7 linked regions of the Homo sapiens genome follow. The gene in region 1 interacts genetically with each later gene. Each region holds a gene or a part of one and is shown in the gene's direction. Other genes may lie near its edges. The genes, in order: RIT1, ILF2, DDAH1, TBC1D3G, PRPF38B, POLD1 and DDX21.

What was found.
Region 2: changes in RIT1 (region 1) and ILF2 together harm fitness more than expected from each alone (negative genetic interaction), as found in Homo sapiens cells (one large-scale study listed by BioGRID).
Region 3: changes in RIT1 (region 1) and DDAH1 together harm fitness more than expected from each alone (negative genetic interaction), as found in Homo sapiens cells (one large-scale study listed by BioGRID).
Region 4: changes in RIT1 (region 1) and TBC1D3G together harm fitness more than expected from each alone (negative genetic interaction), as found in Homo sapiens cells (one large-scale study listed by BioGRID).
Region 5: changes in RIT1 (region 1) and PRPF38B together harm fitness more than expected from each alone (negative genetic interaction), as found in Homo sapiens cells (one large-scale study listed by BioGRID).
Region 6: changes in RIT1 (region 1) and POLD1 together harm fitness more than expected from each alone (negative genetic interaction), as found in Homo sapiens cells (one large-scale study listed by BioGRID).
Region 7: changes in RIT1 (region 1) and DDX21 together harm fitness more than expected from each alone (negative genetic interaction), as found in Homo sapiens cells (one large-scale study listed by BioGRID).

The regions. Positions count from the first base shown.
Region 1 is NC_000001.11:155,897,308-155,901,349, reverse strand, and holds the end of RIT1 (GTP-binding protein Rit1), read left to right. Parts: intron 1-731; coding exon 732-962; 3' UTR 963-3,542; downstream 3,543-4,042.
Region 2 is NC_000001.11:153,668,194-153,672,241, reverse strand, and holds the start of ILF2 (interleukin enhancer-binding factor 2), read left to right. Parts: upstream 1-1,248; 5' UTR 1,249-1,319; coding exon 1,320-1,324; intron 1,325-2,011; coding exon 2,012-2,071; intron 2,072-2,363; coding exon 2,364-2,406; intron 2,407-3,665; exon of another isoform or gene 3,666-3,684; coding exon 3,685-3,789; intron 3,790-4,048. UniProt on the Homo sapiens protein: Chromatin-interacting protein that forms a stable heterodimer with interleukin enhancer-binding factor 3/ILF3 and plays a role in several biological processes including transcription, innate immunity or cell growth.
Region 3 is NC_000001.11:85,325,660-85,329,159, reverse strand, and holds part of DDAH1 (N(G),N(G)-dimethylarginine dimethylaminohydrolase 1), read left to right. Parts: intron 1-3,500. UniProt on the Homo sapiens protein: Hydrolyzes N(G),N(G)-dimethyl-L-arginine (ADMA) and N(G)-monomethyl-L-arginine (MMA) which act as inhibitors of NOS. Has therefore a role in the regulation of nitric oxide generation.
Region 4 is NC_000017.11:36,322,384-36,326,683, forward strand, and holds the start of TBC1D3G (TBC1 domain family member 3G), read left to right. Parts: upstream 1-1,500; 5' UTR 1,501-1,599; intron 1,600-3,027; 5' UTR 3,028-3,028; coding exon 3,029-3,100; intron 3,101-3,262; coding exon 3,263-3,348; intron 3,349-4,300. UniProt on the Homo sapiens protein: Acts as a GTPase activating protein for RAB5. Does not act on RAB4 or RAB11.
Region 5 is NC_000001.11:108,695,310-108,698,809, forward strand, and holds part of PRPF38B (pre-mRNA-splicing factor 38B), read left to right. Parts: intron 1-392; coding exon 393-461; exon of another isoform or gene 462-471; intron 472-733; coding exon 734-885; intron 886-967; coding exon 968-1,028; coding exon of another isoform or gene 1,029-1,042; intron 1,043-2,251; exon of another isoform or gene 2,252-2,500; coding exon of another isoform or gene 2,501-2,540; exon of another isoform or gene 2,541-2,548; coding exon of another isoform or gene 2,549-2,554; exon of another isoform or gene 2,555-2,708; intron 2,709-3,294; coding exon 3,295-3,500. UniProt on the Homo sapiens protein: May be required for pre-mRNA splicing.
Region 6 is NC_000019.10:50,387,347-50,390,846, forward strand, and holds part of POLD1 (DNA polymerase delta catalytic subunit), read left to right. Parts: intron 1-313; exon of another isoform or gene 314-458; intron 459-3,500. UniProt on the Homo sapiens protein: As the catalytic component of the trimeric (Pol-delta3 complex) and tetrameric DNA polymerase delta complexes (Pol-delta4 complex), plays a crucial role in high fidelity genome replication, including in lagging strand synthesis, and repair.
Region 7 is NC_000010.11:68,980,170-68,982,868, forward strand, and holds part of DDX21 (nucleolar RNA helicase 2), read left to right. Parts: intron 1-1,367; coding exon 1,368-1,412; intron 1,413-2,373; coding exon 2,374-2,643; 3' UTR 2,644-2,699.

The DNA.
Region 1 (4,042 bases):
TTTTAAAAATTTTGTAAAAGTAGGGTCTCACCATATTGCCCAGCTTGGTCTCAAGTTCCTGGGCTCAAGCAATCCTCCTACCTTAGCCTCCCAAAGTTCTGGAATTACAGGTGTGAGCCACCAAGCCCAGCCTATTTATCTTTCTTAAAATAAAAAGTATGGGGAAAATTAAGATTGTGTATTTGATATCTAAAACTATTCCCTGTTCCAAAAAGTATCTTAAAAATAGACTAGAGACCGGGCACAGTGGCCGACGCCTGTAATCCCAGTACTTTGGGAGGCCGAGGTGGGCAGATCACCTGAGGTCAGGAGTTTACAACCAGCCTGACCAACATGGAGAAACCCCGTCTCTACTAAAAATACAAAATTAGCCAGGTGTGGTGGCGCATGCCTGTAATCTCAGCTACTCAGGAGGCTGAGGCAGGAGAATCACTTGAACCCGGGAGGCCGAGGTTGTGAGCCACAATCATGCCATTGCACTCCAATCTGGGCAACAAGAACGCAACTCTGTCTCAAAAAAAAAAGTAGACTAGAAATAGAATCATATCATTTGAAGGCAGAATAAGAAACCTTAGAAGTAATCTAGCCTAAAATTACAAAAATTAGTGCTGTATGCTTGAACACCTCCAGAATTGAGAAGCTTTCTTTGTGTTAAGGTGGTGGTGCATTCAGGTTTTTGGACAATTTAATTGTTTTTCACTGTTATCTTTTCTCACATTTTGCCCTTAAAGGTCACCAAGGAAGAAGGATTGGCCTTGGCCCGAGAATTCAGCTGTCCCTTTTTTGAGACATCTGCTGCATACCGCTACTATATTGATGATGTTTTCCATGCCCTTGTACGGGAGATACGTAGGAAAGAAAAGGAGGCAGTACTGGCCATGGAGAAAAAATCTAAGCCCAAAAACAGTGTATGGAAGAGGCTAAAATCACCATTCCGGAAGAAGAAAGATTCAGTAACTTGAAGAGAAGATGTGAAGTGTTTATCTGTGAACTGCAGTGCTGTATCAAAGCAGTCCAGTAACCTGCAGTACTGAGTATGGTGCTTGCTCTTTCACTTAACTGATAAGAGGGACATGCCTACTAGGAGTTTTTAATGATGTGGTATTTAAAGTATTGTCTCTTAGTTAAGTATGATTTATTAACCCAGTGGAGCACTGTCTGCTTTTAAATTGTCACATTAGAATTTGTTCTACCAATGTTTTGGGTTCTGTTGCGCTATTAATTAATGTAAATTTGTTTATACCCAGGAGAATATGTATACCATGTGTGTTTGACTAAGTTCACAAGGGAAGTTTTTGGCTCTGCACTCCACATTATCCTTTAATTTCAATTTCCTGGGACTATCCCAGAGAAAGACCTCAGTCTCTTCTATTCACACTATGCTTCCTAGAGACAGAACAAAAATCATGTAGGGAAATTGGGGCTAATGAGATCAGTGCCAAATTTCAGCAGATACCTGTGAGGCTGACACCTGTTGCAGACTATGGAGTGGTGAGATTTGGGAAAGTTGGGCTATATGTTTGCAGGGACTTAAAAAGGTAGGTTCAGAACAGTATTCTCAGTACAAGCTTCGCTTTTCTAAGAAGTACACATTTGGCCCAAATTCACCGGGATAAGTGAGAACAGCCAGAAGCATAAAATGTGATGAAGGTTTCTCCTGGGAACCTTATTTTACTCTTCATTTCAGGGTTTTCTTTTTTTTTTTACCTTCAAAGGTAGACATTTTGGGAATCATAACTGTATTACTAAACGTGTTTAATCAAAATTCATAGTTGGATCAGCCATTGCCTTGTACAGGTTTATTTTTTCCCCACAGACGCACACACCAACACATTTATATTCATTGCTTCCTCCCACTTTGTGCTCTGTAAAAGAGCTACAGCTGGCAAGATGTTTTTTCGGCCCTTCATCACTGATTGCATTTTCCATACAGAAGAGACATCAGGGGTGTGGGTAAAATTGTGTGTGTGCCTCCTTGACGTGGACAATCACTAGACTCAGTGCTCTGAGAAAATCTGCTATTTCTGTTGAATGGGTCAGTCTTAAAGCTTTAAAATTCACATAGGTGGAGTTTCCCATCTGAAGATTTCTTTACAAGGACTTTGCTAAGTTCATCTCAGGGTTATCTGAGCCTTGACCAAGTTTATCCTAAGGGAATACCACTTTGCTCCCTGTGCATAGTTTAGGAACTGTAGTCCTAGGAGGAAACAGCTTTAAATATTGGTAGTGAGTTGTCTAAGATCAGGACTGTTTTGATATCTGACCTTGTTATATGCGGAGAGTAAATGCAAAAATGCTAAGAGTAATGCATCATGTATTGAATATTAAGTGTCACTGAAGCAATGTTTGTGTTGACTAGAAACGTAAGATGACTTGTGTAGCACCTCTTTATAAGCACACAGCTCATCTTAATATTTTCCATTTTTATTAGAGGAAGTAGGACAGAGTTGTGTTTTTCTTTATAAACAAATGATAAACTAGCTTTTTTAAAAAGTGACTGTTAGAACTTTTTTAGCTCTGAGTAGTGGTCCCTTTTTAAACTCCTGGAAACATTTTTGTTACCAAATAAATCATGTTTTATGGTACTCAGCCATCCAAAAGTGAAAGACCTAGCATTTGATTCTGTGCAGGACACAAATCTCACAGGAACTATAGCACTTTGGAAAAGCATCAAAGTAGAAAAGAAATACAGTGCAATTCTATTATGAGAATGTTTTACATTTAAACTGGTTTAGCACCTTTTAAGTTTAAAGCCCATAGCTTCTTATTACTAGTGACCTAGGGAATTGTTATTAACATTAAGAGATATATATATATATATATATATATATTTTTTTTTTTTTTTTTTTTTTTTTTTAAATAGAGATGAGGTTTCACTATGTTGCCCAGGCTGATCTCGAACTCCTAGGCTCAAGCAATCCTCCCAATATGCTGGGATTACAGGCATGAGCCACCACCTGGCCCAAGCAAGAAATTGACACTATATAGTTATTTAAGGTAGTCAGGCAGTAGAAACATTGCCAGAAGGATAGAAAGGAATTTGGATTATATATAAGGAAAATAACAAATCGGTGTTTTTAAGACTATCACTGTCATATATTAGATCCTTGTATTAGTCCATCCATTAATATTAGTTCTATTCGTGGTGCTAGGTAGCTTGACAGGTATGATATGCATAAGTCATAGCTCTATTCTTAGTGTCATAAAGTGTAGCTAATTTATAAGCTCTAAGTAATCAGCTTTATCTAATTTGAGGGCATTAAAATTACTGCCTAGAACTTTGAGAAGAGAAAAATTCAGGGATAAGTTGAAAGGCACTGGAACTGTTCATGTCCATACCAGACCGGTAAATTATAAGATCCAGATGTTAGTGTCTAGAATTAGCTGTTTAGAATTCAGAGGGGACATATGTTTTAACTTTGTCATATATTAGCAAGAATTGGTCTACTGTGATGTTTGGGGAGGAGGAGGGGGGGATAATTTTTTTAATGCACTTGTATGTGAAGACAGTTTGTATGACATAATACAAAACTTTTAAACAACTTGGGCTTTCCTTTGCTTCCCTATCAGTGGGTAGAGTTTTTGGAATCATTGCAAAAGAGTTGTTTTCAGAAAAACATAACCATGAGATGTGATATTCTGGAAAATATGAATTCAAAAAATTTGAGTGCCCACCATGAACAAGACACCCATGTCAAGTGCTAGGGAGCATGCCATGGAATCCCCCTTCATTTGAAGAGATTACCTCTTGGGAGGAGACAGGAAAAACACATATGGAAAATGACAGCACATTTGCTACCTGATCAAGGGTTACTTAAAGTTGTTATAAGTAAATACACTAAATGAAAAGTGAAAGAATGATTTTTTTTTTTTTTTTTTTTTTGAGACAGAATCTCGCTCTGTCGCCCAGGCTGGAGTACAGTGGCGCGATTTCGGCTCACGGCAAGCTCCGCCTCCTGGGTTCACGCCATTCTCCTGCCTCAACCTCCCAAGTAGCTGGGACTACAGGCGCCCGCCACCACACCTGGCTAATTTTTTGTAT
Region 2 (4,048 bases), 2.2 Mb from region 1:
CAAACCTGAAGCCATTGATTCAAGAAGCTCAACAAACCTCAAGTAAGATTTTTTTTTTTTTAAACGGAGTCTCCCTCTATCGCCCAGGCTGGGGTGCAGTGGCGCCATCTCAGCTCACTGCAACCTCCGCCTCCCGGATTCAAGAGATTCTCCTGCCTCAGCCTCCTGAGTAACTGGAATTACAGGCGCCCGCCAGCACGCCGGCTAATTTTTGTATTTTTAGTAGAGACGGAGTTTCACCATGTTGGCCAGGCTGATCTCGAACTCCTGACCTCGGGTGATCCACCCGTCTCGGCCTCCCACAGTGCTGGGTGGCCACAAGCCACCGCACTCGGTCCGCTTTTTGTTTGCTTGTTTTTTAAAAATTAATAATATTTATTTTAATCTGGATGGTGGTTACGTGGCCAGAATACGTTTAGACTTAAGATGTTTACGTTCTGCTGTAGTAAATTAAATATCGAAAAAGTACTTATGGAAGGGAGGTAGGTGAGGGATAAAAGTCTACAAGTTGGGTTCAGTGTATACTGCTCGGGTGATGAGTGCACCAAAATCTCACAAATCACCACTAAAGAATTTATGTAACCAAGCTGGGCGCTGTGGCTCACGCCGGTAATCCCAGCACTTTCGGAAGCTGAGGCGGGTGGATCACCTGTTTCCATGGACATGGAAAACCATGTTTTCCACACTAATTCAATCAATATACTCCTCTCCTATCTAAAACCTGTTTCTCCTGCTTCGAGTTTGTAGACGTGCAGTGTTCATAGTTGCCTAAACTCCCTTTTCCCCATCAACTTCAACTGCTAGTGGCAAAAATAGCTGATATTGGTTGCATTTTTGAGGTAGGAAAATTGGCAAGATATTTTCCTTCACTAAAGAAACGTAGATTACGTATGCCGTACAGGGCAATGAAAAAACTCCGATAGCAGAGGATGGTTTCGATCCATCGACCTCTGGGTTATGGGCCCAGCACGCTTCCGCTGCGCCACTCTGCTATCTAGAACTAAAATTTCTCATGATTGTTATAGAACACTACGTAGTCGTTGTCCTGACTTCTTTAGTGCCACCTAATGTCTGATCAAAAATTCGTCATTACTATAGAACCAGTTCTTATTGGCTAGTTCCTGACACAGTAGGCGTTTTTTATTGGTTCATAAGCCCGGTTTGACAAAGTAAGCCAATAGGCATAAGCGATGGGGTAAGGCGGGAGCCAATCGCACCGGGTTTTATTGGGACACGCCGGCAAGACGCCTCTTCAGTTGTCTGCTACTCAGAGGAAGGGGCGGTTGGTGCGGCCTCCATTGTTCGTGTTTTAAGGCGCCATGAGGTAAGTGGGTCGAAGCGGTCGAAAGGTTTCAGGTATTCGACGGAAAACTTTGTGAACGTGGGCCGAAAGAAGTCGGAGTATCAGAAAGGGCCATGTATCCGGGGGCTGGCCAAAAACCTGAGAACTCCTGGTCTAGGATAGTGGGAGAGATGGAGGCCGGTAGAGGCGGGGAAACTTGGGCCCGGGATGGGGTTCGGGCCCAGGAGTGGGGAGGGGGGTTCGACACCTTTGTCTCTGAAGGGTTGCGATGAGGGGGTGTCCTCAAGCCCCTGGAGGAGCTCCCCACCTTTCCCCCGCCCCCGTCATCCGGGCTGAGAATGCTGGAGCGAGCCGCATTCATCCTCAGTGCGAAGGCCTTGACATTAGGACACGCCCGATAAATGTGTACCTTAGTGAAGAAATGAGCAATCTTTAGCCTCCGAAGTATTAGGATTCGTGTGGCCCAGGATTATGGGTTATTAAGTGTAGGGCTCACTGAGCCCCATCATTACTTGATGGGGGTTGGATTAACTTAGAGGAGGTTATGGGGGTGTAACTGGGCACCATTTGGAATGGGGACAAGTGTAAGTGTGAGTGGGGTCTCTTGCCTACCGTTGGGAGGTTCCGAGGGATGAAAGTAGCCAACCTAAGATGATATGGCCGGTGGGTATTCCTTCAATGAGGTCAAAATAAAATCTGCATTTCTAGGGGTGACAGAGGCCGTGGTCGTGGTGGGCGCTTTGGTTCCAGAGGAGGCCCAGGAGGAGGGTGAGTACCAGCTTTTAGCATCTCTGCACTTGGTTGTTAGTTTCTGCTTGTCATCTAAATAGGAGTTTTAGAGTAGACTAATGTCACTTGGTTTTGCGAGAGCCAACTGTGGTCTTTTCCTGCACTCCTGTTAAATGAATTTGGCCCCACTATGCTAAGAATGATTCTTTCCCTCCCCGGAGACTTTGTCACTCATTCTGAGGACTGACATGTTTTCAAAATTGTTGGCGTGTTATTTACATCTCGCTTGATTCCTACCTAGGGAATAATTTGGCTGTTTTTCATGTTTTAGGTTCAGGCCCTTTGTACCACATATCCCATTTGACTTCTATTTGGTGAGTACCTTGGGTTAATGATACACATTTTCTGGTCACTGTTGAAATGGAGCCCAGTATCTCCCAGTTAATGAAGTTAGATGGTGGTTGAAGAGGGCAGACACAGTGCCTCACGCCTGTAATCTCAGCACTTTGGGAGGCCGAGGCAGATGGATTACCTGAAGGTCAGGAGTTTGAGACTAGCCTGGCCAATATGGTGAAACCCCGTCTCTACTAAAAATAAAAAAGTTGGCTGGGCATGTGTCTAATCCCAGCTACTTGGGAGGCTGAAGCAGGAGAATTGCTTGAACCCGGGACGCGGAGGTTGCAGTGAACCAAGATGGCACCACTACAAAAAAAAAAAGATGGTTGAAATAGGGAGGGAAAGTGATTTGTGAAAAGATTTGGGGTTTTGAGTCAACTGTGTGTTGCTTTACATACAGAAACAGTGTAAGCATGGTGGGGAGAATAATTCCTTGGCTACTGTTGGCATTAAACATGATTATAATCTTTGTTCTGAACAAGTAATTGTATTTATGGTATATCTGTTACTATAAAGATAGTGATAGCTTAAATTATGGCTATTCCAGCTTTTATCCTTGTTTGAACTTTTTATTTTTTTTGAGACAGTCTCACTCTGTCACCCAGGCTGGAGTGCAGTGGTGCAATCTTGGCTCACTGCACTGAACCTGGGAGGCAGAGGAATCAGGACCTCTGCCTCCAGGGTTCAAACGATTCTCCTGCCTCAGCCTCCTGAGTAGTTGGGATTACAGGCACCTGCCACCATGCCCAGCTAATTTTTGTATGTCTGTTTAGTAGAGACGGGGTTTCACCATGTTGCCCAGGCTGATCTTGAACTCCTGACCTCAAGTGATCTGCCCACCTCAGCCTCCCACGGTGCTGGGATTACAGGTGTGCGTGACCCACTGTGCCTGGCCTTTGAATAAATTTTTTTTTTTGAGGCAGGGTCTCACTCTGTTGCCCAGGCTGGAGTTGCAATGGCGCGATCTTGGCTCACTGCAACCTCGCTTCCTGTGTTCAAGGGATTCTCTCACCTCAGCCTCCCAAGTAGCTGGGATTACAGGTGTGAGCCACCACGCCCAGCTATCACCTCAGCCTCCCAAGTAGCTGGGATTACAGGTGTGAGCCACCACGCCCAGCTAATTGAACAAATTAAGCAGTAAAAACAAGTGTAGAATTTTCTGTTTTTAACCTTTTTCTGTCGTAGTAATAGAAAAAACAATCTCTCCTGTATATTATCTTCGGCAAATAGAATGTAGTTGTTTACTTCTGGTTTAGTGTGAAATGGCCTTTCCCCGGGTCAAGCCAGCACCTGATGAAACTTCCTTCAGTGAGGCCTTGCTGAAGAGGAATCAGGACCTGGCTCCCAATTCTGCTGAACAGGTATGTTCTTTTGGCTGTCTTCCAGAAATGTCTCTAAAGCAGTTAAAAGTATTGGTAAAGAGTAACTGTTGGTAAGGTTAAGAATGGTGTTAACAGAGCCTGAAATCCACAAAGGGTTTAATTGTTCTCCTTATTTCTCATTGTGGGTGGAGATAGCCAGGTGGATATATAAACAAATTACATATGCATTCTTATTTTTACTGGGGACAAAGAGTTGTTCTCTTCCCATATATTCAAGGCCAGAATGAAGTGTTTTTAA
Region 3 (3,500 bases), about 71 Mb from region 1:
GGAATGTATGACATTCCATGCTTTTGCTTTGTAGTCACCTCCGGACATGCATGAGTCACACTGAGAGGTGGGGAATTTGCCCAGACCGCTAGATCCAGTGAATAAAGTCAGGCCTAAGAGATGTAGTCTTGCCATGTTTCTTTCTCTTTCAATTCATCTGGTACTAAGAGACATGGGTGATTTATTTATCTGTGGGTAAAGAGTACAATGAAGCTTCTGCAGATCACAAATTAAAATGGAAAGCCAACTGGCAGTTATCTGGTGATTATGAGTGGTGGGAGCACTTAGCCTGAATGTGTGGGCCAAAATATGCCACACACAGTTTTCCCAATTGCTTAGAAAAGTAAGTCAATGTGAGTAATAGATTTTCTAGATTTTGTTTTGTTTGTGTCTAGGTTGACCAGGTAGCAGTGGTTGTGTATACATGTTCTAAGGATCTCTCTGAGGTCCTCAAACCACTGGGGTCCTACTTAGTAAACCTCTGGCTCAGAGAACTGCCTCCCCAGTTGTCTGGAAGAAATTCTGAACTTCTTGGGTAAACTAGGTCCAATTCATGTGACAGGATGACCGTCCAGTTCTGACTGCAAACATGAGCAGACTGGCCATCTTGGTCCACCCTCAACAGCACATAATAAACAGAGATTTAGACATAGTGGAATCCCATTCCCTGCACCTGGAAAAAAGCACGTTTGTGAGACTGACCAAAAGCTATTGTCTAGAAGTTTCACAAATCCTAACTGCCACCTTGCATATCGAGGCAGCCCCACTCTACTATGAAGAAGTCAATCTGCCCATTGGGTTTATGGACTATTTTACTAAATTGGGGTCACAACCTGACAGAGGCTTATGTGTTCGGTTTGATATACACAAAAGTTTTTCTTTTCTTTCTTTCTGTGAATGCCCTTAGGTGCCACATACTCTGCAGGTAATTCCAGATCCAACCCCCTGTTGTCTTACTTTGTCATCCAGAGTCATTTGAGTTAGGACCACAGAGTATAGTGCCCTTCTGTATGGCTTTGAAAAACAGACAAACCTTGGCCTTGTTGATTTTAGCCATGTTTTTTCACATTAAAAATAATGAGTTGTATTTCTGTTTCTGGACATAGACCATACCTTGTTTCTCTGAGGGAATTCAATTGTTTACCCATGTGATTGACCACACAGTTCATCACAGTGCCCTCCTGAGGTTCTCTGTAGCGTTTAAAAAGGTGAAAGGAATGAAGAAATGAACCAGTTAGTGCAAACATATTTTGGTCACCTGCTATATGTCAAGTGACTTGCAAGAAACAAAGAGGGAAGTGAACCGACTTTTATTACACATTTAATATCTGCTAGAAGCTTGTGCTAAGCATTTTATGTACATTATCTGTTTTGGGGTTTTTTTTAAATAATCTTCAGAGTTACCCTGTGGAGGATAGGTATAGCATTCCCATCCCATTTTACTGCTGAGGGAATTGAGGCTCACAGGGCATATGTGACTTTCCCAAAGTCACACAATTAGTGTGTGGCTGAGCAAGGCTTCAGACCCAGACCTTTCTGACTCTGAAGCCCATGCTCTGTCCACCTCATTATGCCTGGACCTGCATTCAAGGAGGTAGCAGTCTGGTTGAAGAGAGCAAAACTGCACAAAAACTCATAGTAAAATTTGTCCTTATTCCAAAAACTTTGGGAACTTTGTAGCAATTATCTCTCTAGGGGATCTAGGTAGAAGGGATGCTAAGCCTGCAACACTACTAGATTACATGTTAACGTAGGCCTTAGAAAGAAGGAAGCTGAAGAAGTAATTGTGAGAATATGGTAGGTCTAGTCTTTTATGGTTTTTAAGACTAAGGATTAGACTCCAAGACAGATTATCTGTGGCTCAGGCTGGAGTGCAGTGGCACTATCTCGGCTGGTGGCAACCTCTATGATCTTCCCACCTCAGCCTCCTGAGGAGGTGACTACAGGTGTGTGCCACCACACCCAGCTAATTTTTTTGTAGAGACAGGGTTTCGCCATGTTGCCCAGGCTGGTCTCAAACTCCCGGGCTCAGGCGGTCTTCATTTGTTCCCTTGCACACAATAATAAATGGAAGCTGCTATTATTGTGTTTTGGAAGCAGCCAAAAAGAAAATCTGCATAAGAAGAACTAAATTGCAATTCGTAACAAAAGAGCTACTTGGGTCTGTTTTTTTATTCTCTCAAGCGTCTTCATATTATTTCTGGGCATATCCATTTTATAAAGAGGGCTAAATTGAATATGTTGTTAATTTTCTTAGAAAAGTTAATCTTTAGGAGTGTCTTTAACTTCTTAATTGCCCACATGTTGGATTAGATCTAAGGTTTCTAATCAGGGCTGTAAAGAAAGACCCACTCCATAGGTGAGCCCCTCTATGGGCCTATCCCTTCAAGAACAATTTAAATTCAAAAGTGCAAGAGAGATGTCCAGTTAAGTCCTTTACCTATACCAGACGGTAGCAGGTCATAACAGGATTACATACAAGAAAAGAATTAATGGTACTGCCAGAGAATGAATAATAAGTATCAAGTGAATGTGAAAAAGTAGGTGTTATGTAGTTTGTAGGAGGTAGTTTCCTGCTGCAGAAGTTGAGAAAGAGCAAAGTGAGATGATTAAGAAACGTTTTGAGTTGCACAGATCTGGGTTTGAATCTACCTATGTGACCTAAAGCAAGTTATTTGACCTCTCTCAGTGCAGTTTCTTCATCTGTAAAATAGAAGTTTGAGATTAGATAATAAATGTAAAATGTTTGGCATGGTGCCCTGCTAGTTCTTATTGTAATATAATTATCTATTTTTCTGTCAGTTTCCTCCACTAAACTGTAATCTTGGAAAACTGGGTCTGTGACCTGTTCATCTGTATGTCTCAGCCTTTCATACAGTGCATAAGCTCATCCCCATTCCTGATGTTTCATTCCATGTGAAGGGTATTCCATTATGGGATTGCTCTTGGCCTCTCTCCACCCTTGACATATTCCACACTAGAAGTGAATGATTTACCTGACTGGTGAGTCAGGAAGGGCTTACTATGTGCCACTCTTAGGAATGAATTTTCTACAGGAAGCATGCTGTCTCTCTTCTGCTTTTCATACCATAAATCTTACTATCCAGTGCCCCCATGACTGAGTGGGCATGTCTGCCTAGTAATATGAAGCACATTTCCATACAAACACTGAAAAGTAAAAGTAAATGGGACCATAAAGGTAGATTAGAACCAGATTGTGGAAAAGATCATGTTATACCTTCCTAGCATGATATTTCAGCAGATTCCTTAAAACTGTATGGATATTGATAAAGAGTAGAAAGAGTCTACATGACTAAACCCCAAATAATATTTGTTTTTGTGGGTTTTTAATTTGGATATTCTTGTTGTTAGGGGGAGGAGTGTTGTTTTTTGATAGTTTTGATTATGTTGAGGAGGTAAGGATGAGGTATCAATATTTTAAATTTTGTGCAGAGTTCATTTTTGTGTTGTTTTTAAAGTTATTTTATGCTAGGATACTA
Region 4 (4,300 bases), on another chromosome or scaffold:
CCATCCTACTGCAGGCCTGTGTGGCTGCTAGAGAGGCCAGGCTCCTTTCCGCACCCCGAGGCTGCCCGATATGCTTTCTGCATCCTGTAGAAAACTGACCCACTATTCTCATACTGGTGCAACTTCTTCCATTACCTCAAAACTGGACAACGTGAACTTGTTTCTTGTCTCTTCTTGCTAGGGCTGTCACTGGGACAGTCCGAGATGGGGGGGTGGGGGGAGACAATGGATGAATGGATGGATGAATGGACAGTAGTCCAGGGAGATGTCCCTGTGTGTCCTGAACTGGGACCTTCCTCCAATGAGAAGCCTTCCTGAGTGAGTTTATACAGTCATCCCTTGGTATCCATGGATTAGTTCTAGGGTCCCCGGGGATGCCAAAATCCATGGATCCTCAAGTCTCTGACATAACATGGCCTAGTATTTACATATCAGCTATGCACATCCTCCCGTAGACATTAGACCATCTCTGGATTATTCATGATGTGTAATACAATGCAGATGCTACATAAATGGTCGTGATACTGGATTCTTTAGGGAATAATGACAAGAACAAACTCTGCACATGTTCAATAGAAACATAACCGTCCAATTTATTTTCTGAATATTTTCCATCTGCTGTTGCTGAATCTACAGATGCAGAGCTCCTGGATACGAGAGCCAAGTGTGCTTTGAGAGTAGGGTGGGTGAGGTTGCTAATGAGTACAGGGGAGCAGGTGTTGATCAGGAGGACCCTGCACTGGGGCATCTGGACGTCCTGCCTCAGGACTTGAGACTCCAGTTGGATGGCACAGGCAGACTCAGCCCAGGTCAAAGCCGTCCCCTTGAAGTTTCTTTTTATCCCAAGCTCTTTCTGGCCCCTGGAATTTGGCATCCCCTAGGCCCTGTGTGGAAGGACAGATGAACCAGGTTTTAGATAACATGTCTAGAAGAGTGAGCCCCTACTGTGTGCCCGGCACTTTCCCCACAGGATCCTCTAGCTAGAATATCCAAGGGTCATGGAGAGAAATACCCAGTTAAAATATCAGAAATGAAAAAGCGATACCATTAGAGACACTAAAAAGACCATTAGGTAATAGTACTAGCTTTTGTATTCTGAGATCCAACAGCAGCAGTCACTTCCCTCCACCGCTATGTGTATCCCAGGACCACCCTGGGCAGGGAGGGCTGAGGTTAGGGAGCAGCCATGGATGCTCTGATGCTGGCCCTGGGCCTCGGGGGTGACAGTGATGAGGAACTGGGTGCACACATGAGTGGGGCAGCCGGGCCTGGCCAGAGAAGCAGCACACACGTGCACAGATGTGTTTACCCACATACACATGTGCACGCACGTGCACAAACACATTGCAGGCAGGCATGTTGACGCCTCAGGCAGCGGAGGACCCTGACTCTGGGTGCTGCTGACCCGGGCAAGGCCCCACTGTGATTCGTGCCATGACCTCAGAATGTCACTGGTGCTTAGCACCTATCTGCTCTCTGGTCTGCCTCAGTGGTCTACAGCAGTTACACACAGGCAGTGGTATCTGTGAGCAGCTCTGTGGACTCAAAGGTTTTCTCCCTGAGAGGCATGACCCAGGCCAGCTGATTCATCAGAATCAGGTGAGCGTGACCTGCTCTCTTCCCTCCAGGCGGACTTGGGGGCAGTGGCTACGGTGCGGGCGGTGTTGGCCTCTGTGGGGCAGCTACCGAGGAGGGTCATCCCTGAGCACTCACCAGGCGCCCGTTCTACACTGCCCGTGTAGACGATTGGCTCTTTCGTCTCCATGGTGGCTTCGTAGAGTGGGTGCTGTTCCCAAATGTCCCCATTCGACAGATGAGACGTCTGGGGTCAGAGAGGCAGTAACCGGCCTGGGAATCCGGACATGACCCTGAGTTTTGCTCTCAGCCCTGCCGTGTGCTGTGCTGGAATTCAGGCCTGAACCCTGTGACCTCCCTGCCCTAGATCCCAAATCTGCCCAGGTTTCCCATCCCGATGGGGCAGAGCCTGGTCCTGGCAGAGCCACTGGTATAGAGCCACTGGTACAGATCCACTGACGGTCCTCAGAACACCTCTGTGCCCTAAGCTGGGTCCTGATGGTCGCTGTGGGCCCCACTGAACACACATGGTCCCTTGTCCGGGGGAGCCTGCTGCCCTTGGGCAGCTGTGGAAAATGAAGGAGCCCTGGAGGGCTGGCTGAGGGGAGACTATCTTCCCTTGTGTTCAAAGGGGTCCGGGCACTAGGGTTCTCCCCAGGTATTTCTTGCTCTGCGTGGTCCTCTTGAGGCCTCGCCCTCCTTTTGCCTCGAGTATTCCCAGGAGGGACGGTCCATCCAGCTGTTCTCCAGGACCAAGGACCCACTGTTCTTCCTCAGTGACCCAGGAAAATGAAGCCTCCTCCTGTTGGGACGGCTCAGAATGGTGGACTCCACAGTCCCTCCGCGAGAGACGTGGTTTCCATGCGTACAATAGATCTTCCTCATCCCCCAAACCCAACACCCTCCTGCTCAACAGGCGTTATTCCTAAAGTGGCTTCACTGTTCAGACTGAAGAGCCACGGTAGCCAAAGTGATGAGCGGAGTAGAACCGAGCAGTCGGGAGAGATCTTGTTCCCTGTAGGAAACTGGGCATCGCTGAGGCCCTGAGCATCCCAGGAGGCCGATTGCACAGAGACCTCTGGTCGCTGACCCCAGTCTGCCTCCACATCCCTGGAATAGCCCATCATGGGCCCTTCACCCTTGGCAGGTGGAAACCATTCAACCTGCTGGGGCCGGTGTGTCCCCATTTCATGGCATTGGGGGACAACAGGATTCTCTGTCTAGGTCCCACTGTACTCAAGTCCTTGGGAAGATGCCCACCCCTGCTTGGGACTTGAGACTCCAGAGACTGGAGCAGCTGTGGGCCACTGGGTCTGGCCCCTTTTTCCCTGGGGGCGGCGGTGGAATGGGGGTTACGCAGCCAGCCAGCATCTGGGAGCCCGGCGAGAGCGGTTCAGGTGTTCTCCGAAGCCGCCGCGTACAGTGTGACCTTTAGACAATTCTGTCTCACAGGATGGACGTGGTAGAGGTCGCGGGCAGTTGGTGGGCACAAGAGCGAGAGGACATCATTATGAAATACGAAAAGGTACAAGTCGGTCTGCTTCTTGGAGGGAGGCCTCTTCCAGTGTGCCCTGGTCAAAGGGTCCTGGGCTCCCTAGGAGCACAGGGCAGGGACGGGTGGCCAATGCCCCCAGGCCCTTGCACCCTTTACCTTGGACCCCTCACCAAGGCTCCCTCTGGGCTACAGGGACACCGAGCTGGGCTGCCAGAGGACAAGGGGCCTAAGCCTTTTCGAAGCTACAACAACAACGTCGATCATTTGGGGATTGTACAGTGAGTCCTCTGCACTCCCCTCACCCCTAAAGCACCTGTCTCAGCTCAGGGATGGGTTTGCTTTTAGAAAGGCCTTTCTGACGCAGGACATGTCTCACCAGGTCGGGTCAACCTCCTTTCCAGGGACAGAACTCCTCCCTGACTCCCCTGCAGGTCCAGCCCGAGGTTGTTAGGCCAGAGGTGTGGGGCCCATCTAGGGAGCCGGTGGGAATGGAGACTGGGCTAGGTCAGGCCCCTGGGCGCTCAGCAGTTCTGTCGGCAAGTGAGCACAAGAGGAGCGGGGCAGCCTGAGGGTCTGGCCCTGTCTACTTGGAGACAACCCCGGTGAGATGCAAGGGTTATGGCCACAGGGTGAGGGGACGCCTGGCCCAGCCTCAGGGCTGTTGTCCAGCAGGTCTCTGAGGGCCCACCTGCCCCTGTTCTCCCCCATTCCCCTAGAGCTACAGCCCTCACTGTCCCGTGAGGGGAAAAGGCATGGTGACAATGGGGGCTGTAGCCCTAGGAGAACGGGGGAGAAGATGGGCAGGGCCCCGTTCTGGGCATCTCACGGTGAGGCCAGGGAGGCAGCAGGGCTCGCGGCTAAAGACCTGGGTCTGGTGCTGGGAAGGGATCTGGGGCCAGGTAAGAGGAGCCCAGCCAGGAGCCCATCCCTCAGGGATCACAGGATGGAGAGACAGAGGATCCCTGGGGAGGTAGGGCGGGAGGGAGCTGACGAGCGGTGCCACTTCTGAAACGCAGGGTGTGTGGCTCGGGTGCAGGGAGAGGCAGGTGGATGCTGGGAGGTCAGAACCTGCAAGGGCCTTGGGGCTGTCAAGTGGGGTGGGCCCCTGGTGCAGCCAGAGTACACCGGGCAGGTCTCAGGGCAGGCTCCCTTGACCCTGGCGGGGGGATGTGGTCACTCCCTGAGGGACTCCTGTCAGGGCCCGGTCGCCCACCCTGGGCGGCCCCCATC
Region 5 (3,500 bases), about 47 Mb from region 1:
TTAAAGGAAAATGTTAAGCAACCCATAAGTTAAATTGTCAAATATTATCAAAGTTAAAATATTACCAAATAGTTTTTGCAACCAAGTGAGACTATAGAAATTTTCTGACTCCCAGATGTAGATATCAGCTCTTTATAAAGCTAGTTGAGTGGGATTTCTCCTCTGCAAAGCTATTAAGGTTTTGTTAAACCCTAGTAGCTTTATGGGTGCTGTCTAAATGTCTAAGCAGTTTTTCCAAAAATGATTTACACACTTAATATCAGTAAACATATACTTAATGCCAAAATAATTTTGGAAGAGCTGCTCTATTATGGACTTGGGTTTACTTTTATCAGGCTTTTAAACAAATTCAAAGTATGAATGTTTGTTGTGTTCCTCTTTTCTATTTTCAGGTCACGCACGTTGAACCATGGGAGAAAGGAAGCAGGAAAACAGCGGGCCAGACAGGGATGTGCGGAGGGGTAAGTAGAAGTACGTGCATTTTTCAGTTTTTCTGTGTCTAATAACTAAGTTTATATTTAGAGAACTAGAGGCCTGTCAATTATACACTTGAGTGACAATTTTTTTAATCCAAATTCAAGTGTTCAGTGAAATAGGGTTAGAAAAGTGTTACTTTTTAATGCTCCTTAGTTCTGGATTATGGATTGTTATTGATACCTAACAGGATTAATCAATTGGTGTTAAGAGTCCGTTAATTATTTTACTACTTTTTCTTAACTCGTTTCCCCTAAAGGTTCGAGGTGTTGGAACAGGAGGAATTGTTTCTACAGCATTTTGCCTGTTATACAAATTATTTACCCTGAAGTTAACTCGAAAGCAAGTGATGGGTCTTATAACACACACAGACTCTCCATATATTAGAGCGCTTGGATTTATGTATATAAGGTGAGCGTACATTTATGTACATTTCCAGTAAATATCTCATTTTAATTCACATGTGTTTAATAATAGTCTTTTGTAATTCTAGATATACACAGCCCCCTACAGATCTGTGGGACTGGTTTGAATCCTTCCTTGATGATGAAGAGGTATGTCAACAAGGGTAATAATTTGTTTTCTTCTGATTACTCTCATATTTTTATTATCTTTTATTTATTGGTGGTTTAATGTCTTCAAGAACTTCCTGTAGTTAAATTTATTTCAGTGAGATACTTTTGGAATTAATGTCCTTTTACTGAGACCTGATGGCTTTTATGTATTTTAGGGTAAATTTCTGAAGTTTTATTTTCTTGTTTTAAAATTGTTTAAATGTGTTTGGTAACTATTGGAAAATTTTCTCTTCTTAATTATGTTCTGTGTATTGTATTGATCCTGAATTGTATAGTTAATAGTGACTTTTCAAGATGGGGCATGCTCAAGATCGAACAGATAATAAAAGATATGCACATAGAATACTAATTGTAGCTTTTTTTTCTTCTGGAACATTTCAGTTCTTCACCCTCTAGCTTCTTCCAAATATCAGTATTCCCACTTGCATAGAAGTGCAGAATTGAAGAGTTGGGTGTTACATAAATAGGCTAAGTGTTTGGATGACTTGTTCAAGGTGACAAAATTTTAATTCCAGTTTTCTGACTCCTAGTACACCACACACACCTTTAAAAAAGAAATTTTTTAAATTGTAATTCGAGTCTCCCTAATTTGAAATCTGAAATACTAAGTTAGATTTAAATCGTGTATGCATTGGCTGGGCGTGGTGGCTCACATTGTAATCCCAACACTTCGAGAGTTCAAGACCAGCCTGAGCAATATAGTGAGACCTCATCTCTACAAAAAAAAGTTTAAAAATTAGCTGAGCATAGAGGTATGCATCTTAGTCCCACCTACTTGGGAGGCTGGGGTGGGAGGATCACTTGAGCCCAGGAGACAGAATTTGCTGTGAGCCAAGATCATTGCCACTGCATTCCAGCCTGGGTAACACAGTAAGACCCTTTCTCAAAACAAAACAAAATATCATATATGCATTAATTTACTTGCATGGTGAAGTCCAACATGTCAAAAATGAAATGATGAGCTGTATTGTCCCTATGTCTACCCAGTCTACTACTTTGTGTTTTAAGGTTCATAAGACTTTTTGAGTGCTATGTGTCAGTAGTCTATTTACAGAGTTCATCCAAAGAATTTATTGAATTAAAGGATGGTTCTAATGGAAATCTATTGTGTTTTGTTATTACATGCACACCTAAAAAAAAAAAAAATCTCATTTAGACATGGAGAATTTTTATTTTTCTCTTTTTTTTTTTTTTTTTTTTTGCCTGTTAACTGAGTTACTTCACTCAGAAGAAGCAAAACGTGTTTTAAATCACAATCTTTAAGGTCTTTTTATCTTTAGATCAGTTTTTCAGACTGAAGTGCTTCTCCCTTCTGTCTTTAAAAAAGCATGTTCCTCTTCATAATTGGTGTTGTATTGGTTTTGTTTCTGGATGCCTCTATTTTATGTTTTTTATTGTGTTTACAAATCTGAGGTCCTCTATTTAAGCTAACTTATTGTTTTCTTCCTTAGATATCTGCAGCGATTATATTTGGAAATACTGTATATCTGAACACTTAAATGTGTGTGAGTGCAAGCAGTTTTACCTTTAGCTCTTGTTTTCCTGTTTAGATAACAAATCTCACTTTCCTTGTGTGCTTGCACTATAGGTTTGGGACTGACAATAGCTGACTAACATGTCCTGAGCTGTGAGAGGGCATAGCAAGAAGGCCTTCATGCGGTAATGACCCTTTTCAGAGACAATGGTCATCATGGATTATGCGTTTCCAATTATTTGTTCATTTATTTATTTTCTACATAACTAAATTAGAAACCTCACTGCTTCATGGCAGTTGGTTTGCTATTGCTTCCAGTTTTATTAGGGCTTCATTTTATATTAGAGCTGTTAAAAGATAACCTTTAGACAGGAATTATCTAAAGTAGATCATATGTAGCTAGGTTATGGTGCAAGGTATATGATGTGTGCAAATATGTCCACAGAAATAAATACATAGTAGGTATGTGGAATGTAAATTTAAGTCAATCGTTCCGCATAGTTTAGAAATGTAAGGGGCTTTTTCATATTGTTAACTGAGTGAGATCAGTTCCCTTTATGCCTGTGAGGCTGCAGGGTTTGTTCTCACTTGCATGCACACACTAAGCCCAAATATTTCTGTTCATTCATTGTCAGATCAGGATATGAAAATAAAATTTTTCTGTTAGTTTTTTTTGTATTGAGATTCCAAAGATGGTAATATTTTTATAATATTCATGTATATATGGAAATACTTTTTTTGACGGCTAGGGTATCTTTTGTGTTTCTGTAGGACCTAGATGTGAAGGCTGGTGGAGGCTGTGTAATGACCATTGGAGAAATGCTACGATCTTTTCTCACAAAACTGGAGTGGTTTTCTACCTTGTTTCCAAGAATTCCAGTTCCAGTTCAAAAGAATATTGATCAACAGATTAAAACCCGACCTAGAAAAATCAAGAAAGATGGGAAGGAAGGTGCTGAGGAAATAGACAGACATGT
Region 6 (3,500 bases), on another chromosome or scaffold:
GTGTCTCACTCATCGAGAAAACTGGTGTCTGGCCTGCAGCGAGCACGTGGTGTCATTTTGTTGCTGAATCTCTGTTAAGTGCTTGCTACCGAAGGGTCGTGAGAGGGGCAGAGGACAGTGTTTGCCAAGCTCTCATCCTGTGCCAGGGCCAATGAGAGGGGACACACAGGGGCCTTTCCTTCCTAATGCTGCTGTGCCTCCACTAACAAGAGCCCAGGTTTTGCCCCTGGTGACACCGTCCCTCCCACCGCACCCCCGCAGCCACAGCCAACTGACCAAGGGCAGCCAGTCAGCTCCTTCCTTCCTCCTCCAGCTTCAGCACTGACTCTGGGCTCCCACAAGCCCCTGCGCTTCCTCTGTCCCACCCGGGTCTCTCCTCGCAGATCATCACTCCCTGTCCCTCTCTGGCTACTTGCACAACCCGAAGCCAGAGCCGCTAACGACGCTTGCTTCTTCCTGTAAGTCACACATGTACGCGGTTGTCACCCAAAGAGCACAAACGCAGTCAAAGTCTTCCTCACACAAAACCCCCTGCACACGCTCACGGCTGCACCACTCACAAAAGGTGGAAGCAACCCTAATGTCCATCCACTGATGAAGGGATACGTCAGACGTGTTCTAGCCATACAGCGGAAAAGTACTCAGCAAAAAAGGGACACAGCACTGACGAAAGGCCGCCACACACATGAGCGATGAACACATTCAGAGAAAGCAGCCAGACACAAGAGGCTGCATATTCCAAGATCCCATTTATAGGAAATGCCCAGAATAGGCAGATCCATGGAGACAGAAAGTTAGATGAGTGGCTGCCAGGGGTGGGGGCAGATGGGCTGAATGCAGGGAGAGAGCTAAAGGATTTAGGCTTTTTGGGGTGATGAGAGAGTTCTAAAATTGACTGTGGTGATGGTTGCCTAACTCTGAACATACTAAATACCATTGAACTATATATACTTTAAATGGGTGAATTGTATAGTATGTGAATTATAGCTCAATAAAGCAGTTAGCAAATGAAGTCTTCTACCCTGTCCCCCAGGAAACCAGTTTCTTAGCTCTCCTTATAGAATGATGCATTAAAAGCAAATAGATTTATACATATGCCCTGCATTACAATAAAAAAGACGTCTACATACTCCCTGCATTACAATAAAAAAGACGTCTACATACTCCCTGCATTAAAAGCAAAAAGATTTCTACATACTCTTCTGCCCACCTTGTAAATTTGTTACTATTTTCATTTTATATATTTCCCCCTTAATATTTTGAAAAGTTTCAAACCTGCAGAGAAGGTACAAATTGAGTACAGTGAACAGCCATGGCCCTTTGCCTAGATTCACTGGCTGTTGGCATGACACCTCATTTGCTTTATGCTTTATCCAAGCACATGCATATACCTGTACCTTTTGTCCTTTTTTTGGCTGAACTATTTGAAAGTTGTGGTCATCATGATACTTCACCTCTGAAAACTCCAGCAGTTAACTCTTTTTTTTTTTTTTTTTTTTTTTTTGAGACGGAGTCTTGCTCTGTCACCCAGGCTGGAGTACAGTGGTGCGACCTTGGCTCACTGCAACCTCTGCCTCCCAGGTTCAAGCGATTCTCCTATTGCAGCTTCCTGAGTAGCTGGGACTATAGGCGCGCACCACCACATCTGGCTAATTTTTGTATTTTTAGTAAAGATGGGGTTTCACCATCTTTGCCAGGCTGCTCTTGAACTCCTGACCTTATGATCTACGTGCCTCTGCCTCCCAGAGTGCTGGGATTACAGGCATGAGCCACCGCACCTGGCCTCTTTTTTTTTTTTTGGTACAGTATTTTACTCTGTCATGCAGGTTGTAGTGCAGTGGGGTGGTCACAGCTCACTGCAGCCTCGACCTCCCCAGGCTCAGCTGATCCTCAGCCTCTCGAGTAGCTGGGACTAAAGGTGTGTGCCACCACACCCTGCTAATTTTTATATTGTTTATAGAGACAGGGTGTCACCATGTTGCCTAGGCTGATCTCAAACTCCTGGGTTCAAGCAATCCCCCTGCCTCGGCCTCCAAATGTCCTGGGATTACAGCCGTGAGCCACCGTACCTGGCCTCCAGCAGTCAGCTCTTAAGAACAGGGATGTCCGCCTGCAGAACTACAGTGTCATTGTCATCATCATGCAGTTTAACATGAGACAGTGACGTTATTGAATAGACGATTCTTATTTAGATCTGCCACGTGTCCCTGTAATATTCTTCAAGGCTATAAATAATTTCTTATTTTTTTTTTTTTTCCAAGACTGAGTCTTGCTCTATCGCCCAGGCTGGAGTGCAGTGGCACTATCTCGGCTCACTGCAACCTCTGCCTCCTGGGTTCAAGCCATTCTCTTGCCTCAGCCTCCCGAATAGCTGGAATTACAGGCATGCACCACCACGCCCGGCTAATTTTTTTGTATTTTTTGTAGAGACGGGGTTTCATTTTGGCCAGGCTGGTCTCGAACCCCTGACCTCAGGTGATCCGCCCGCCTTGGGCTCCCAAAGTGCTAGGATTACAGGCGTGAGCCACCATGTCCAGCCTGTTTTTTTTTTTGTTTTTTGTTTTGTTTTTTTTTTCTTTTTTGAAACAGAGCCTCATTGTCACCCAGGCTGGAGTGCAGTGGTGCGATCTTGGCTCACTGCAACCTCCACCTCCCAGGTTCAATCAATTCTCCTGCCTCAGCCTCCCGAGTAGCTAGGATTACAGGCGCCTGGCACCACGCCCAGCTAATTTTTATATTTTTAGTAGAGACAGGGTTTCACCATGTTGGCCAGGCTGGTCTCAAACTCTTGACCTCAGGTAATCCACCCACCTCAGCCTCTCATAGTGTTGGGATTACAGGTGTGAGCCACTGCGCCTGGCCAATAATTTCTTTTTTTCTTTTCTTTTCTTTTTTTTTTTTCAAGTTACATGAAGTAAATTTATTATTTACAGCTAGGCAACAAGGGAAAACCGAAGCATAGGATTCATTGTGAGCCAATCTCCCGAGACTCAGGAAGGTTGCCCCGGGAGGATGGAGTCTCATTTGTGTGTACCCCATTTGTACCTGGAAAGCAGACCATCTTGGGTTTTATATTCTGGAGGCAACATGACATGTTGGGCTAAAATGATGAAGGACATCCTGTTTCTAGGAGGGACTGGAACAGAGCCTGGGCTGTTTCAGCCAGTCCCTCCTTATCTCAGGATATTGCATTCCTAGCACATTCTACAGTTATTCTTGAGAACTATTTTTTTTTTTTTTTTAGTATTTATTGATCATTCTTGGGTGTTTCTTGGAGAGGGGGATTTGGCAGGGTCATAGGACAATAGTGGAGGGAAGGTCAGCAGATAAACAAGTGAACAAAAGTCTCTGGTTTTCCTAGGCAGAGGGCCCTGCGGCCTTCCGCAGTGTTTGTGTCCCTGGGTACTTGAGATTAGGGAGTGGTGATGACTCTTAAGGAGCATGCTGCCTTCAAGCATCTGTTTAACAAAGCACATCTTGCACCGCCCTTAATCCATTTA
Region 7 (2,699 bases), on another chromosome or scaffold:
GCAGAGGTTGCGGTGAGCCGAGATCGCGCCATTACACTCCAGCTTGGGCAACAAGAGTGAAACTCCGTCTTAAAAAAAAAATTTTATATATATATAAATCTTTTCCTCCAAAGTAGCTTTTATGACTTTGCTTAGCCTTAAATCTTACCAGGCAATGTTAGGGGCGTCTTTATCTGTACTTCAGAGTCTTTAGGACACATGTTTATGCAGGTAAACTTTTACCTTGCTGTGTTTGCTAATGGAGAGCCTCAAGAACACTCAAAGGCAAAAACTGTTTTCTAATTACCTCTATACCCAGTGAATGCCTGGGATTATACTCTACTTCGTAAATATGTAAGCGAAGATTCCCATGAATGGCAAAATCCACCAGTAGGTGATGATACCTATGTTATGATTGGGTAAATTTTGGGGTGAAAGGGGTGTTCCTTATAAAATATTGCAGTTGAAGACAGCAGGGAGAGGAGTGCCTGTATTAGTTAACACATAGTTTGACTATATTTTTAGACGATTTCCTTGATTGGAGAGGATGGCACTTAATATTAAAGATGGTGTCCTGGCTAGGTGCCATGGCTCACACCTGTAATCTCAGTATTTTGGGAGGCTGAGCTGGGAAGATAATTCTTGAGACCAGCCTGGGTAATGTAGTGAGACCCTGTCTCTACCAAAAAAAAAAAAAAAAAAAAGCCAGATGTAGTGGCATGCACCTGTAGGAATTCAAAGTTACAGTGAGTTGTTAATTGCACCACTGCACTCCAGCCTAGGCAGTAGAGCAAGACCCTATCTTAAGAGGGAAAAAAAAAAGATGGTGTCCTGTATTATTTTTTTCATACTCTTACAGAAGGCTGAATTAAGAAAAACCAGAAAATCAACAATAGAAGATCACTTGTTTTTCTGCTTTTAATTAGGTCATTCTGAATAGCTGGCATTGCTTTTCTGATGGAAGGCAGTATATAGTTTAGACTATAGGTTTTAGAGCCATACAGACTAGATTTTAAATACTTGTGCCATTTAATAGCTGTGGGGCCTTAGACAAGTCAGCTAACCTTTCCAAGCCTGTTTGCTCAGCAATAAAATGTAGCTAATAGCCACTAGGGGGTTAGCACAGTGTAATAGCTAAGACTCTGTCTATAGTTAGAAAGTTCTAAATCATTTGGGGTTCTTTTTTTCAATGTTCCTTGTCTTTCTGCAGTGTACTTTTGGCAGCTATAATGTATTAGCTTTGGTCTAAAGTTCATCTAAAATTATACCTGGTGGTTTTTTTGCTTTATGTTTTTTGTTTTCTTTTTTTTAAAGAATACGTGGTCTTTTAAAGGGAGTATTTTTCATGTGCGTTGGTTGGATTAACTTCCATTTGCTTTGATTTCTAGGGTGTTTGCTTTGATGTACCTACCGCATCAGTAACAGAAATACAGGTATTCTTTTCCCTTAGATTTTAAAGTTAACATACCTAAATTGTAGAATGTTAATTATGAAAATAGAGAATAATAGATTGGGAAACAATAGTTCTGGTTCCTTTAGTAAGAGATAATCGATAATTAAATTTTGGAATATTCCCCCCTAACTTTTTAATTCTGATATTTTTGTAGTTGAACCCACCTGGTTTCTATATTTCCTTTATACAAAGTTGTGAACGATATCCAGCTCTCCCCACCCTTTAACACTTATATATGGTATATAGATTTTGTGTGTGTGTGTGTGTGTGTGCATGTGTGTGTGTGTTTTCAGACAGAGTCTCGCTCTGTCGCCCAGGCTGGAGTGCAGTGGTGCAATCTCGGTTCACTGCTACCTCCGCCTCCCGGGTTCAAGCGATTCTCTTGCCTCAGCTTCCCAAGTAGCTGGGATTATAGGCCCATCACTACCCCCAGCTAATTTTTTGTATTTTTAGTAGAGACGGGGGTTTCGCCATGTTGGCCAGGCTGGTCTCGAACTCCTGACCGCGGGTGATCCACCCACCTCCCAAAGTGCTGGAATTACAGGCATGAGCCACCACGTCCAGCCTACAGGTTTTCATAGACATTTAAAATTGTTACATCTTTATTCAATACTGTGAGAAATGTGTGCTTAATATATTTGTTTTATTACCTTTGGCTGTAGATACCCTGTAGCAATTGAGTTGAATAAATGGTTTAATAACTTAATAAATGAAGTAGTGATGAGGGCTATTTCTCATAATGAAACTGTGTTTTCCCACACTTCAGGGACACTGGCTTTTGGACCATGATGGGTGGCCAGTGTTATTTTTGACCAGTGACTTGTTAAGCACTTATGTTATCACCTTTTCTTTGAAGAAGTGGCAAATATTTTGTTTTTCTCATGCTTTTTAAAAATTGAATACTAATTAAAGCACACAAAAACAAAACATTCTCTCAACAGGAGAAATGGCATGATTCACGACGCTGGCAGCTCTCTGTGGCCACAGAGCAACCAGAACTGGAAGGACCACGGGAAGGATATGGAGGCTTCAGGGGACAGCGGGAAGGCAGTCGAGGCTTCAGGGGACAGCGGGACGGAAACAGAAGATTCAGAGGACAGCGGGAAGGCAGTAGAGGCCCGAGAGGACAGCGATCAGGAGGTGGCAACAAAAGTAACAGATCCCAAAACAAAGGCCAGAAGCGGAGTTTCAGTAAAGCATTTGGTCAATAATTAGAAATAGAAGATTTATATAGCAAAAAGAGAATGATGTTTGGCAATATAGAACT